Regions from separate parts of the Homo sapiens genome. Here region 2 is linked to region 1. A link means that fine-mapping ties the variant in region 1 to the expression of a gene that starts in the linked region. Tissue or cell type: whole blood. Region 1 holds a variant in brackets; the other region holds the start of a gene. All regions are shown on one strand. Distances are from middle to middle.

Region 1 (8,107 bases):
TAACATTTGCCATAGTTTATGCTTAGCAACCTGTGAGATACGGCTAGTGTCACTCACTTTTGGTAACACGGAGTCACCAAGGTACAGAATAACTAAGTGGGGTATGCAGGGTCTGGCCAGAAATACAATCTTTTGATTGCTAGCCCAGCTGCTTTCCTTGTTATCACTTTGTGGAGCAGGCTGGACATTGACAATGAGTTCTGAGACTGAGTGGAATGGGAGACCCCTCCCAGCTGGTGGTCGAGCTGCCTAGAGCATGGTCCATCTGTTTGGGACTAGGGTTGAGCTCCAAGATGGACCAATCAACCCCACCAAGAAAGAAACCCCTTCTATCACCGCGGAGTGTACCATAGCTCCTGTCAGCCGCTCTGGAAGTTTTTGCCACCAGAAGAGAGATGCAGAGCATCTTTTCTTACCACAGCTGAACTGAGAACATATGTTTCATCCATATATGGCACCTTACTTATTAAGCTTGTGTCCTTGTCCTTTCTAATACTCTGGCACCTTGCCCATCAGATGGCTGCCCCTTTTTATAAGATAAGTGCCTGTATGGCTGGCTGTTCTGATTTTAAGTCATGAGCTTTGACTTTTATCAGAAATTTACAGCTTGGTTTTCAAAGGACTTAGTTGAGTGCAACTGCATGAAATGGTAGTGTTAAATTTTATACTGTAGAAATGTTGAAATGGAACTCTATAAAATGTGCGTTTTCAGTGTCTTTTTTGAATGGTTTTATTTGTGTGTTTTATCAGTCTTAGACATTTTTATTACTCAAGTAATCTGTTCATTGTAGAATGATTAGAAAATACAGATAAGCAAAGAGAGAGAGGAAAAGAAAAGAAAAAAATATAGGTCTACTGTAAATAAAAGTTCCCCAAGAGAGAAGCCAGGATGTGAAGGACTTTGAGCTTCTTAGAAGAAGGGGTCAGATCAGCTGGTGCAATTCTGCATTCCCAGCAGCACTCTGTTCTTCCTGTTTTGGACACTAGCAATCAAGACAGAAGTTGGGGTGTCTGAATATGTCCTGGAGAAAGTCAAGATGGCTTTTGGTTTGCTGCCCCAGGCAGTGAGTCCCGGTGGTTCAGGGGCCAAAAGTCCTGCAGTTAATCCACCACCTGCAAGGGATGGCTGTGAAAAGAGAAAAATAGTCCTCCTTTGGAGTCCCATTATTTATACAGTTGCTAGCTTTCAAGCAGATAGAGAGAAAATAATCTTACAGTCATGCTTTCCCTCCTCTTAACTTCTGCCAGTCCTGCTGGAGCCATCCACTCCTTCATTCATCTGTCCATCCATCCATCCATCCAATCACTCATTCATTCATTCATCCACTTAGTGGCTCACTTCATTCATCCATTCAATACCAATTTACTGTGTACCTGCTGAGCACTAAACACTGTTGCATTTGGTTCTGGGAATACAGCATGAATAAGATAAGGCCCTTCTCTCATGGATCTTACATTGGACTGGTGCAGGTTTTAGTATCATTGCTTCCCTTTCAGCCTTACCTTTCTACAGCTGTGGATAAGATGCCATGAATTTGCGAGTAAAAGTGTTTATCTCTCCCTGGAGCAGACTAGACCCCTAGGCTCTGTCCTAGAGCACAACTCACCCTTAGCTGCCCTGCAACCTGATCATCTCCAACAGGGAAGGTGAAGAGAAGGCAGTATTTGGCTGATGAATTCTTCTCAAAATGATACTTTAGTTTTGTCTGGGAGGGGCAGGGGAACAGATCACAGAGGGAGGGGTTCTTGGCTTTATCAGAGAAAGAAGGCCTCATTGTGTGTTGTTGTTGGAACAGGTCCCAGAGACCTCAGTACAATTCTTTGGACAGGGCTGAGCTAAGCTACCATGTATACAATAATAGTCGAAAGAATAGTGTGGAATTTAGGGTAGTATCAAAGAGAGCTCTGTGTTACAGCTGTCTTCAGGCAGAGGGCATGACTTCAGCCCCAGGTCAAGTCCTGTTGTTAACTTCATAATATTTTAATGAACATGCCTTTTTGTGTCTGTTCCTCTCCCCTCTCCCCCATCTCTTTCTTTTTTGTGTGTGTAGTCATTTATTAAGGGATTTTGATAGAAAATTTAAAACTTAATCTCTGTAAACTCTTCCTTTTGAACTATGGCATACCTGAGTGGACAGGCAAGTTGCAGGGATGGGGACATTTGACACAGAGAACTTAGGAAGTTCCAGGAAACCAGTATTTCTGAAACTGTAGTCAATTCTGTTTTGATTTTTTGCTACATTGATGTAATACCTATTTCATTGTTGACCTAATATTGTTCTTTAAGTGGGAGTGCTTGTTCTTTTTGAAGGGACACTCTTCGTTTAATAAAGAACAAGTATAATTCGCCCAAAATAGTAAGTAACCATAAGCGTTGATATGTAAACTCTAGTGTTTGTGTCCTACATAAAGCGATTTGTGGTATGCAAGGACATATACATACCACATTTTGGGAAGTTCTGTTGTAGATTGTACCAGCTGTATTCACCATATTCTTGGAGAGTCAGATGAATAAATCTACCCGCTTCCAGTCCTTTCCTCCCATCTCCCTCTCCCACACTAAAGTGAATTGTGGGGCATGACACAAGTTGGAGAGAGGCCCCAGGGAGTGTTCCAGGACTGAGGGAAAGGAGGATTTGTGGCTACTCTGTGCCCTGCCAATGGAAGTAAAAATAGACCTACCTCCTGGGGTTATTGTTAAGTTTCAGTGAGCCAGTGCATACGGACTTTGCTTATTAGCACAATGCCTGGCCTTCCACTTTTCCTGATCATCTATAGGCACTGGCCCCTTGAATAACTTCACTCTGTATGCTGGGTATACAGTAATATTGCCAGCGCTGAAGCAGAAGATGCAGACACTGTGAAATGTGCTGTGGTCAACCAAGCTGTCCACATGCCAGGAGATTTATTTCCCATCTCTTCAGCAAGCTCTCTCCATCCTGGGTGGCATAGAGTAGAAGCTGAGAGTGTGGGCTCTGGACGCCGACAGCATGGCTTCCAATCCTGGCCTGTCCGTCACGTGTAGTTGGTAAGTACCTTATCTTTTTCATGTATTCAACAAAAAAACACTGTGTGCCTGCTGTGGGCCAGCCACTGTTCTAGGCTCTAAGGATTTGCTAGTGAACAATCTGAGGGACAGAATCATGCCTTTGCGGAGCTTATATTCTGGCCTTATTTTAGTCTCTTAAATGGAAGTAATAATAGACTTACCTCCTGGGGTTATTGTTAAGTTTAAGTGAGCCAATGCATACAGAGCCTGCTTATTAGCACAATGCCTGGCGTGCAGCTATTACTTAATAAATGCTAGCTTTTCACTTATGATACTCTTGTGCGCAGCCTTGCACCAGGCTTAGAACCCATTTTCATCATTCCGTTCCTGCTCTGGCTTCAGTAGCACCCAACTGAAATATTCTCTCCTTATTTCTTGGCCTCTAAGTAATTCTTGAAACCTCCCAGCTCTAGGAACCTCTTATGGCTTGCAGCCTCCTCACCTAATCATAGCACTCGAAGAACTCCTGGTCACCTCCTGAAATAAGCTTACTCATCACCTAGCTGCTGTGATGAGTTGGCATTCTCATCTCCTGGATGACGTTTTTTGGAAAGGATCTTTTGTGAAAGGCTCCCCCTCCCCACCCCGTCTACTGCCTTTTCCCCC[C/G]AGTGCTTCCTCTTCGCTTCCTGTAGTATGAGGGTTGTTCGGGCAGACATCCTGACCTTGCAGTTGCTGTAAGGATCTTTTTAACCCAGTTCTTTACAGGAAAACTCACTGTAGCATGGTTGGTCTAATACAGAGGTATTTTTTCATATTTTTAGAGCTGGGGTCTCACTCTTTTGCCCAGGCTAGAGTGTAGTGGTGCAGTCATGGCTCACTGCATCCTTAAACTTCTAGGCTCAAGCAATCTTCCTCTTTTTTTTTTTTGACAGAGGAGTGTAGTGGCGTAATCTTGGCTCAGTGCAACCTCTGCCTCCTTGGGTTCAAGCAATTCTCGTGCCTCAGCCACCCGAGTAGCTGGGATTACAGGTGTGCGCCACCATGCCCGGCTAATTTTTGTATTTTTAGTAGAGGTGGGGTTTTGCCATGTTGGCCAGGCTGGTCTCGAACTCCTAGCCTCAAGTGATCCTCCTGCCTCGGCCTCCCAAAGTCCTGGAATTATGGGCATGAGCCACCACGCGCAGCTTCAATCCTCCCTCTTCTGCCTCCCAAGTATCTGGGACTATAGGCACATGCTATCATGTCCAGCTAATTAAAAAAAATTTTTTTAGCGATGGGGTCTTGCTATGTTGCCCATGTTGGTCTTAAACTCCTGGGCTCAAGCAGTCCTCCTGCCTCAGCCTCCTGAGTCTTTGGAGTTGAGGGCATAAGCCACCGTGTCTGGCTCCTAAAACAGGGGTATTGATGCTGGGCCTTAGCAATCAATTATCTGTGGGAGGGCTTGACTGCATGTTAATTCTATATAATTTCTTTTTCTTTTTTTTTCTTTCTTTTTTTTTTTTTTGAGAAGGAGTCTCACTCTGTTGCCCAGGCTGGAGTGCAGTGGCGCGATCTCGGCTCACTGCAAGCTCCGCCTCCTGGGTTCACGCCATTCTCCTGCCTTAGCCTCCTGAGTAGCTGGGACTGTAGGTGCCGGCTACCATGCCCGGCTAACTTTTTTTGTAGTTTTTTAGTAGAGATGGGGTTTCACCGTGTTAACCAGGATGGTCTTGATCTCCTGACCTCGTGATCCACCCGCCTTGGCCTCCCAGAGTGCGGGGATTACAGGCGTGAGCCACCAAATTCTATATAATTTCTAAAAAGAAAAATTCTACCTATCCTCTCTGTGTAATTGACATAAGATTTTGTCCTGGGTTCCCAGCCTCTGAAAGGCAATACCAGGTCAGTCTCCATTGACTTCAGCACTCAGTGGCCTGATAGGACTTTTGTGCTCGGCCGTGCCACATGGCTGACTGTTTCAGAAGGAAACCAGACTGCTCTGCCCTTCAAAGAGTGGGAGGGAACTGGGTGACAGGGGTGACTTGGACAGTGTGTGTATTAATCTTCTAGGGCTACCATAACAAGGTCCCACAGACAGGGCAGTTTCAATAACAAAACTTGGTGTTCTCATAATTCTGGAGGCTAGAAGTCAGATCAAGGTTTTGGCAGGGCTGTTTTCTTCCCAGGTCTCTCTTTTTGGCTTGTCTTCTCCCAGTATCTTCACACGGTCTTTTCTCTGCTGTGCCTGTGTCCTAATCTTCTTTTCTTATAAGGTCACCATATTGTATTAGGGCCTGCCCTAATGACCTCATTTGCCTTAATTACCTCTTTAAAGACTCTATTTCCAAATACAGTCCCATTCTGAGGTACTGTGAATGAGGACTTCAACATAGGAATTTTAGGGGCCTCAATTCAGCCCTTGACAGTGTGGTTCAGGAATGCAGTTCCAAAATACACTCATGTTACCTAAGCCTTGAGTTCCTCAGGTGGGCCTCTGAGGGCCAGCAGGGAAGACAAGGTCAGCCAGCTTTAGGCTTGGGTGTGGACTTGGTGGCCACCATTACTAGTTTAATAAGATCTTACTGGTGGCTTAGGCAAGTTGGCTGTTCCTCAGGAGGGTTGGCCAGGCCTGAAGTAGGTGGACAGTGTTATCCACAAGTAGGTAAGCTTTGCTTATTAACCCTTGTGTCTTGGCTACTTTCAGACAGGAGTTGAGAAAGAGGAGTAGGAATAGTTTGGGGAAGAATTTGTTGATAGTAAAAGTGTGATATTGTCCTTCAGACAAGACTCAGAACTTTGTCAAGAGTTGGGAACACCATGGCTAGAGCCTTCCGGTAATCTGCAACTTCCCTGTTCTTCCTGTTAGATGTGCTGTAAACAGCGACTGCCTACAAGAGAGGTTTGGAATCTGTTGACTTTGGCTGGGATGTAGCCTAAGGAGATTCATCGGTTTCCAATTCCTGTTCTCTCAGGATATTAAGTATTGCCATGAACTGGAAAATTTTTCTTTATTAAAATTGGAGGAAGAGTTGGAGTGTTTTGAAAGAGACCTGGAACAGGAAGGGAGCTGACATGAGAAGTTCCACTGCATTGCTTCAGAGATGATTTTTATCTTTTTTGTGTTGCCGGTGCTCAGTGGCTTAAATCTTCAGTACAACAAGGTGAGATAAACAAGTAAATAAGATTCTGGAAGTACTGACATGGTAGCTAGCTTGTGAGGCAGTGTAGTATGGTGACTAAGTGTACAGGCTCCGGAGTCCCACTAACCCGCATTCAGAACCTAGCTCTACTGCTCATCACCTGTGTGACCTTGAGCCAATTATTTAACCTCTCTGGGCTTCAGTTTCCCTATCTGTAAGATGGTAATGATGTTGGTACTTACCACACTGGTTGTTGTGACAATCAGATGAGATAATGCGTTAGTGCCTGTAGACAATGCTCAATAGTTATTAGCCAGTTATTAGCCTCTGCTCTTGTTATCAATGTAGGATGATTGAGAGGCTGTTTCCCTAGTCAGTTGGCTGGCTCCTGACTCAGGGATAGAGCAACATCATATTACTTACGGAATTACATGATTTTTATCTTTTAGAGACAGAGTCTTGCTCTGTCACCCAGGCTGGAGTGGGGTGGCATGATCTCGGCTCACTGCAACCTCTGCCTCCCGGGTTCAAGGGATTCCCCTGCCTCAGCCTCCCAAGTAGCTGGGATTACAGACCAGCGCTGCTACACCTGGCTAATTTTTGTATTTTTAGTAGAGATATGGTTTCACCATGTTGGCCAGTGTATTTTTAGTAGAGATATGGTTTCACCATGTTGGCCAGGCTGGTCTCAAACTCCTGACCTTAGGTGATCTGCATGCCTCGGCCTTCCAAAGTGCTGGGATTACCGGTGTGAACCACCATGCCTGGCCAGAATTACATAATTTTTATGCTTGCTTTTCTATTTCTATTTTAGCTATGAGAACTCACTTTAGTCTTTTTTAGAGAACAGCAGTTACACTGAAGGAGGACATTTCTTTTAAATGGAAAAGAGTATTTTTTAAGTTATATTTTGTGTTTTGTTATAAATCTAAGGTTGGTTAGTTTTATTGGTTAAAAAAGTTTGCTAAGTGATGAGGGTCATGGATTCTTATTCACTGCACACATTTATTGAGATGTCCCTGCCACCTTCTAGCACCTTCCCCTGCTTCCTTTGCAGTCTCCAACCACACTGGCTGTCAGCCCTGGTCCACCACAGGGCCTTTGCACAGGCTGTCCCCAGGACCTGGAGCACTTTTGCCACTTCCCCTTCTCACCACTTTCAGACTCATTCGAGCCTCACTTTCCCCGGCTAGCCTTCCTGGTCCATCTGTGCTACTGCTGCTCTTTTCTTCTTATTTTTTTGAGACCAGGTCTCACTCTATCACCCAGGTTGGAGTACAGTGGTACAATCATGGCTCACTGCAGCCTCAACCTCCTGGGCTCAAGTGATTCTCCCACCTTAGTCTCCTGAGTAGCTGGGACCACAGACATGCACCACCATGCTTATTGTTTTTTTTTTTTTAATTTTTGTAGAGATGAGGTCCCGATATGTTGCCTAGGCTGTCTCAAACTCCTGGGCTGAAGCCGTCCACCCGCCTGGGCCTTCCAGTGTATTGGGATTACAGGTGTGAACCATGGTGTCCAGCCCCTCTGTGCTTCTGTAGGACTCTGATTCTTTCCCTTCTACAGCATAGAGATATTGCTAACTGTACACTCATTTGGGTACAATTTGATTGAAGTTTGGCTCATCATTAGATGGAAAGCCCATGAGGGTAGGAACCATGTCTTTTTTTGTTTACCATCATATACTGAGCAGCTGAGAGCAACTTGGTGCATGATCGACACTGGATAAATATGTGTTGATGAGTGAATGGATATCATTTTGATGTAAAGAGTGTTAGGTACAGTGAAGGCTGCAGCGATAAAGCCTGCTCAATCTCTTCCCCTAAGGAGCATCTGGTATCATAGAGAACACAATTAAATAGTGCCATAGGAGGAGTACATGAGTGAAGCCACAATTCACAGGAGGATAGTCACTCTCCATTAGTGGAGAAGCAAAGGCATCTTGTAGGAGATGCCATGTGCGCCCTGGGCCTTGGAGAAAGAGGAGTTGAGTCAG
Region 2 (8,107 bases), 43 kb before region 1:
GGGAGTTGGGGACAGGTCAAATGCACTATACATTATTGCTTCTGCCTGTGCAGCAGTGATCCCCGTTTTCCCTGTTAAATGCGCTGTGCTTGTCCTTTAGTGGAACAACTTCACCCCAGTACTTTACGTTTTTGGAGTGGGGCTGTTTTATCCTTGACTCCAGTCTTGTCATTTCTATTGGAATTCTTAGAAAACTCTCTTCCTGCTAATATTGCTGGGCGTAATTTGGAGAAGCTGAGAGAGTCACTGAGACTGAAGCCACCACAGACAAAGGTCAGCTTGGGGATGGAGAGAGAAACCTGTGCTGTTATCATCTTCTAGATCCCCAGAGGCTGCCTTGAAGCTGGATCTACCCCTGAACTTCTCAGTTACATAAGGACCCATGAATGCTTCATCACGGATCAGATCTGTTCACAAGCTGGTGTTCAGGAACCAATGTGTGACTGGTCCATGCCCACTTCTGATTATATGGACTCAGAGACAATGTACATGGGAGTGCTTTGCCAGTGGTAAAGTTTCTACAAATGGGAGGTAATTGCATGGCAGGTGTAAAGTTATTTGGACCATTGAGGCCAGAAAAAATGTAGATTTAAAATATACTGATACTGAAAGCAGAACTGTTTGAACTAATTGCTAATTTTAAGGAATTCAGACATTCATCCAAAGGATTTAGGCCAAATGTTGCCTAAATTGTTTCTCTATTTCATATGAAAGTGATTTCTGCGGCTTAACTGTTCTCTTCTATTTATGTGCATGGCCATAACTGATGTTGTCACATGAGTCCTGTTTCTTTCTTATTAAACATGTGTCCGGCTCATTGATGTTCAGCACCTTTGAAGTTCCAATTGCTGTTCTAAGCTGGGGTTGCTGCATTGAATAATACAAAATCTCTACCCTTATGAGCAGATTTTCTGGGAAGAGAAAGACAACTGCACCCTCCATGCGCCAGTTTCTGTACTGCTGCATTCTTCTTTTTTTTTGAGACAGTCTCACTCTGTCACCCAGGCTGGAGTGCAGTGGTGCGATCTCGGCTCACTGCAACCTCTGCCTCCCAAGTTCAAGCGATTCTCCAGTCTCAGCCTCCCAAGTAGCTGGGACTACAGGCATTCACCACCACACCCGGCTAATTTTTTTACTTTTAGTAGAGACGGGGTTTCACCATGTTGGGCAGCCTGGTCTCGAACTCCTGACCTCAAGTAATCTGCCTGCCTAGGCCTCCCAAAGTGCTGGGATTACAGGCTTGGGCCACCACACCCAGCCTGTACTGCTGCATTCTGATTCTCTCTTTCTAGTAATACTGCTGAAAGTGTGGGAGGTTTTTTGTGGAAATTCCATATTAAATTTATGAGAAATTTACACATTATTCACATATTTACATATTTGTCTGTGAATGGGCATATTAAGTTATATGTTTGTGCCACATAGAATTATTAATATTATCTCGGTAAGCTGGTTCAAGTTACAACTCTGGGCCTCAATTTCTTATCTGAAAAAATGGGAACTATCATAGTACCAGTCTCACCCTGTAGGGATTATATGCATGTAAATAATTTTTTTGTTTGTTTTTTGAGACAGAGTCTCTCTCCGTCACCCAGGCTGGAGTGCAGTGGCACGACCTCAGCTCACTGCAAACTCTGCCTCCTGGGCTCAAGCAATTCTTGTGTCTCAGCTTCCTGAGTAGCTGGGATTAAAGGCGTGTGCCACTATGCCAGCTATAAATGCATGTAAATAATTTACCATAGTGCCTGGCATAAACTGAGAGCTTAACAAATGATAGCTGATATATTATTGTTGTTATTATTAATACATATATATTATTTTACACACATTTGCCTACTATTCCTCAATGGGATAAAACAAATAATTGTGGATCACATTTTATTTCATTCATTTAGCATGTATTGAATGTTACCATTTATGCTGGGCCCACTGTGGCAGATTATGTTTTTCAGAAATAGCTACTATAATATCTCCCATTCTTGTCATTCCCCCATCAAGAGGTACAGTCTAATCTCCTTCCTTTGAAGCTGGGTGGGCTTATGAGTTGCTTGTAGCCAATGAAGGTGGTAGAAGTATGTGGCTTCCAAGTGATTCAGGGCAGGCAAGGCCCAAAATTGCAGCTTAGCCCAGGAGGCTTCTTGGCTTTGCCCAGAAAAGAATTCAAGGGCAAGCCAGTGGTAAGAGAAAGCAACTTTCATTGAATCAGTGCTGCTCCTTGTGGAACAGGGCTATCCCATAGGGAGTGTGCTCAGGATGGGCAGTGTACAGGGCTGTTGGCAGCTGTACCTATACCTACCTTTAATTATATGCTAATTAAGAGGTGGGTTATTTAGAACTTTCTGGAAAGGAGGCAGGGAGTTTCCAGAACCATATAAGGTAACTTCCAGGCCATTGCCATGGCCTGTTGCAATGGCATTTGTAAACTGTCATGGCAATGGTGGGAGTGTCTCTATGCTAATGAGCAGTGAGGGCAACTAAAAGTGTCTTTTTTCCTTGCCTGCTGGTTTCTGCTGGCTGCTTCACTGAATCCCGTTTGGAATGAATCCTGGTTTGATCAGTGGGGTTGTGATTGGAAAACAAGTCCTGCAGGCCTCTCACCTCACAAGGCTAGGTCATAAAAGGTGATGCACCTTTCTCCTTGTGAGCTGTATATGTTCACACTGGAGCCTTAAGGCTGCCATACTGGGAGGAAGCCTAAACTGGGCCACAGAGAAAGGCCATATGGAGAAGCCCTGAGTCTACCTGAAAAGTGGGATGCCCAGCTAACCATCCACTCCTCCAGCTCCTGTCACCATCCAACTGCAATCACATGAGAGACCTCAAGCCTTTGGCTTCCCTAAATTTCTAACCCACAGAGATTGTGAGAGAAAATAAAATGATTGCTGTTGTCTTAAACCATTAACTTTTGGTATCATTTATTCTGTATTAATAGATAACCAGAACACCTACCTTTAGGTGCTCAAGATAAAGCATTAAACAGATTTACTTTCATAGGGTTTCCATTCTAGATCTTTCTCATCTTTGGCAAGTGAAGAACAATTGTTTTTGGGTTGTAATTATCTATCAGATAGCTGTCTGGACCTGCTATCAAGTCTAAATTTGTAGATACACCTATCAAAGAGATCACATTCACTTATTTATACATTTACTTATTTATTTTACAATTTTTTGTAGAGATGGGGGGGGTCTCGCTGTGTTGCCCAAGATGGTCTTGAACTCTTGACCCCAAGCAATCCTCTCACCTGGCCTCCAAAAGTTATGGATTACAGGTGTGAGCCACCATGCTCCATTTATGAATTTAATACATTAATTGCTTTCTTAATATAGATGGGACACCTCTGACCCCTCCTGAGTGAAAAATCCATGTTCCCAAGCACCCAGGCCTTCTATCCTATCACAAGGCATGGTTATCGCTTGTTTGCTTCCATCTCACCTAATACCACCAGCAGCTAAATTCATTCTGTTATTCATCTTTGTATTCTTACCATCTAGGCTAGTGCCTGCACATAGCAGACCTATTTAAAAAACAAACCAACCCAAACAAACATGAAGCCCCCACGTAGCTGAAGGAGGGCTGCTGGTTCCTAGACATAGAGATAATTTATTCAAGGACAGTCCCTATCCTCCAGGAGTTAACAATTCAGCACTAGACACCCTGTGGGACCCAGCCTGACAAGTGCAACGAGTGAGATGCCAGAATTGAGTCCTGCGGTCGAACAGAGGGACTACAGGGCAACGCACTGGGCGTGGGAGGTGGAGATGGCTCTGGGAAAGGATCCATTCATTTATTCTACATTTATCAATCACCGTAGCACACACAGCACATAGTAAGTGCTCAATATCTGTTATTAAATGCCAGCCACTGTGCTAGGTGCCAGGATGCAACAGCGGACAAGAAAATTGCAGGGGCACTTGCCCTCGTGGGGCTTACCGTGTAGCGAAGGATGACAGGCAGTAGACTGTCATCTTATTATGTAAAATTGTGCTAGATGCAGAGCAGGAAAATAACAGGCGGCTGAAATTCTAGTAATGATGTGAGCTCCTTCGGCTGAGGGGAACCGTGGGCGGGTTCTGAGCAGGAGTGGCCGTGAGGGGGACGGACCGTAGGGGGCGGGAAGACTGCAGGCAAGAGCTGGTAATTTTAAGATGCAAATAACATTTTTCTGCCTGACTGGAAGAGGAGCGTTTGGTCGCTCGGGATTCTCCCGGAGCAGGGGGCTGTATTTTGAGTGTAAAATCGGTTGCCCCGCAGTGCAGGGCAGGCGGTGGTGAACTGCAGCCCTAGTCCCCAGGTTTTTCATGCTTGGCACATCGAGGCTCTTCGGCCCCCAGGACCAGCAGACTCGCCATGCGTGGCTCGGATTCGGGCTGGAGCAGGCGGGCAAGGTAGCGGGGGCGGGTGCACAGCAACGCTCACCCCTAGGTTTCGGGGTCTGCAACGCTGGGAGGGCAAGAGGAGGCGGAGTTTGCGCTGCGGACCTAGGCGTTGGCGAGGGCCACGCCCCCAGCCGCAGACCCTGCCTCCAGGCCCCTTTGATTGGATCAAGACCGCGGAAGGGCCGGGCGTCCTCGGGCGGCCTGAGGGTCGGGCAGGGGAGGGTGCGCTGATTGGCCCGGCGGGGATTAAGTCATCGCTAGCAGGTTCGAGCGGCCCAGACACCGGCGGGGCGGCCGAGGCTGCTGTGAGAGGGCGCTCGAGGCTGCCGAGAGCTAGCTAGCGAAGGAGGCGGGGAGGCGGCGTCTGCACTCGCTCGCCCGCTCGCTCGCTTCCCGGCGCCGCTGCGGGTCCGCGCTGCGTTTCCTGCTCGCGATCCGCTCCGTTGCCCGCGCCCGGAACAGCAGCACCTCGGCCGGGTCCGAGCTCGGTTCGGGAGTCTTGCGCGCCGGCGGACACCGCGCGCGGAGTGAGCCAGCGCCACACCTGTGGAGCCGGCGGCCGTCGGGGGAGCCGGCCGGGGTCCCGCCGCGTGAGTGCTCTGGGCGGCGGGCGGCCCGGGCCCCGGCGGAGGCGCGCCCCCCGGCTGGGCGCCGCGCGCACCATGGGGCTCCCAGCGCTCGAGTTCAGCGACTGCTGCCTCGATAGTCCGCACTTCCGAGAGACGCTCAAGTCGCACGAAGCAGAGCTGGACAAGACCAACAAATTCATCAAGGAGCTCATCAAGGACGGGAAGTCACTCATAAGCGCGCTCAAGAGTGAGTGTCCCGAGCCCCTCGGGGACGCGGCTCCGGGGCGGGAGGAACTGGGAGGTGGCGCTTAGCCCGGGTTGCCCGCGCGTCTGCCGGGTTTCTGCTCCCGGTACACTGGGGGACGGGTGTCGACGCCTCCGAGGCAGGAAGGATACGTAAAGCGGGCGAACCAGCAACCATCAGATGAAGAGAGAGACCCGTCGCTCCGCCTTTTGCGTTCAGGGATGGTCGGGAGGTGACCCAGCGCGGGTGGTGCTCTGGGGCAGCGCGGGTGGGCGTGGGCGTGCGCGGCACGCAGGTGTCCCAGCAGTGGGGCCAGAGTGCCGAGCGCGCCGCAGCCAGCGGGCAGATCCCATCGTGTCCACAGCTCCAGCTCCCTTAGGGGCAGAGTTGCTCAGCCTTGAGTGCCCAACCGTGAGAATGGAGCGTGCCCTGCCGAGGGGGCGCTGCCTCCCCTTGGGAAAAGGTGGGTTGTGACTGCTTCGCTCCCTGTACGCAGCTCCAGCCTAGTCAGGCCGCCGGGTTCCCTGGGTGGAATGCTTGGTTAGCTTGCGATTCCTTGGAGTATTGGCAGCCAGTAATCTCTAAATCTGGAATCAGTACGTGCGCAGGTTCTGATTCTTGTGTTTAGCAGAAGGTGATAGGGGTGGGAGTAGAGAATCAGAGTGTTCCTTTACTCTAAACTGTGGGCGAGGGTTTAAAAATAGAATGTACATATCCCAACTCTCTCCCTCTCCTGCTCCCAAGCTCTCCTTTTTACCTCTTCCGTTATCCTTGTAAAGGTCTGAGAAGGAATATCCATAATTCTCAGAAAGAAGTTCAAACGTATTTCAAAGATTCTTGGACCTTTTGTAAAACCATTTTTGCGTTTTTTCCTTTTGGTACAAGGGGAGAGATGCAATTTTGCATTCTGCTTCACTTTTGCAGAGCCAGAGAGTTTCTTTTTCTGGCCAAATAAGCGTGCTCTAGGGATGAGTGCTTTGGATTGTGAGAACGTTTTTGGTGCCTTTTCAGTCTCCCCATTTAAAAATAGCTCAGTCCATCTTTTAGTTTTAAGAATCAGGAACCACATGAAGGCAGATAGTGGAATTGTCTCTGACTCTGTTACTGTATCTGTTTCTGTGATGGATTTCTTAGTAGGTGATACCTTTCAGCTAAGAAATCTTGCCTTAGCAGAGTAGAGTCGTAGCTGTGGGAATTGTTCCCAGGCCTCTTTAAAGGGCACTTACAAAAGTCAGGTGCCTGAGATGTCATTTTGTCAGCTTGTTGCTTCTAAAAATGAAGAGAGAGACAATGGAATGCCAGGGCAGCCCAAAGTGCCAATCTTTTGGGATGAAATGAACACAGGACTGTGATGTGATGAGGCTTCTTAGAGGCAGATTCTTAGGCTGTGCCTTACCTGAAACATATGAACAGACCCTTCCTTTGTCAATAATCAAGGCCATTCTTGGTTTAGGGGATGGGGGTCCCTGGTTTGGAGTAAGTTAGGGGCCCACTTACAGGTTGGGCCCAGGAATTTTGATTGAACCTCAGGCTGGCTTTAGTGAGTTCTCTGCTTCACTCAGCAAACTTTTGGTGTGATTGTGGTGTACTGGGTACTGCACTGGGCACTAAGGGTGTAGGAGTGAATATTTTGCTGCTCCTGTGCTTACAGAGGTGTACTTCATTCCAGGCACTGCTTCACATATAATTATCTCATGTGCTTAGATTCATTCTGCAAATGAGAAAACAGAGACTGGGGGAAGCATTACCTCTGAGTCACACAGCTCTAGCAGCAGGACCAGAGCTTTTGAATCCACCTGGTTTGAGCCAGAGATGGAGTCCCTGCCAGTGCAGAGCTCTTGACTTCTGCCCCATCTCACTTGCCCGGAATGGAACCTCTTGCACCAAGCCCTAGAATTTGGACTTGTGTTTTCTATTTTGGCATTGAATCTGAGGAGGGTGCGTTTGGGTGACTGGCAGTTTTCCTACCACTAGTTTTTGGGGGCAAGAATTCTTTGGTAGGAAGAAACATTGCAGTGATAGAGTTGAAGTGTTATTTAAGCTGTCTAATGGAATGGATCAGCCCTGTAATCTGGAGGAAAGACTGATGGGGATCTCGGTGTTCTGTTCTCTCTACGTCCAGCTCTGCTAATGTATTCTACCACTACTAACTACTACTTGATCAGGTCAGGTGACCTCTAAAAATAGAGGGTGGAGTCAACCATTGTGTCCTGGATTTCAGACATTCCGATATCATGAGATGCTTGCTGCGTGGTATACTACTATATTAATGTTTGTGTATTATTTTTCTTCAGTCATGTTTATTATATCTATAAACAGAAGTGTTTTCCCAGTACAACTTAAACATAAATACATAATTATATAAACACTGGGTTTAGATAATCTATGTTCTCTTATAGCTCTAAACTTTTGTGGCTTTATTTTATAGCCATATTTTATTTTATTTTACAGTTATTTTATAACTAGTATTTCTAGCTCTTTGGATTTAACTTGGTTTTGAGTGTTAATCATAGGCAATAAAACTGTCCTCTAGGGATTGCCAAAGTTCAGGTAGATCATTGTTACTATTACTTCCACTTTATGAATGAGATGCTGGCAATGGAGATGCAAATTCTTTATAGATCTAGATCCCGTAAAGGAGAAACATGCAGCAGGTGCTTGATTAAGTGAAAACATTGCCAGTTGTTTTTTAGACTCCGAGCCCTGGGTAGCAAAGACCAGCTAAGATTTTGTATTATCCTCTGAAGTTTTGGAGTTCTTTCTCCATCACGGGCTTTGAAGGCTAGAGGGACAGATGAGAGTGGCTGAATATGTCTTGGCTTTGTAAAGCAGCAGAGTTTCTTTTGGGGGTAGCACTGAATGATTATCAGTGATTGTCTTTTCACTGAGTAATATAGCATTGAACAGAGAGGCCAAA

The links. PIP is the estimated chance that this variant, and not a neighbour inherited with it, causes the effect.
Region 2: ARHGAP26 starts here. The variant in region 1 is fine-mapped to the expression of ARHGAP26 in whole blood (TOPMed, PIP above 0.99).

Annotation. Positions count from the first base shown.
Region 1 is chr5:142,808,463-142,816,569 of GRCh38, forward strand. The region is part of intron 1 of ARHGAP26 (Rho GTPase activating protein 26); the gene reads left to right. Among named protein-coding and RNA genes, the nearest start is that of ARHGAP26, 42 kb to the left of the region's middle. The variant C/G (reference allele first, on the strand shown) is at 3,656.
Region 2 is chr5:142,765,723-142,773,829 of GRCh38, forward strand. It overlaps ARHGAP26 (Rho GTPase activating protein 26), which reads left to right and starts at 4,655. Exons shown (of 23, transcript NM_001135608.3): 1 at 4,655-5,193. The coding sequence starts at 5,040. RefSeq lists silencers at 4,459-4,868, 4,879-4,998 and an enhancer at 5,294-6,129.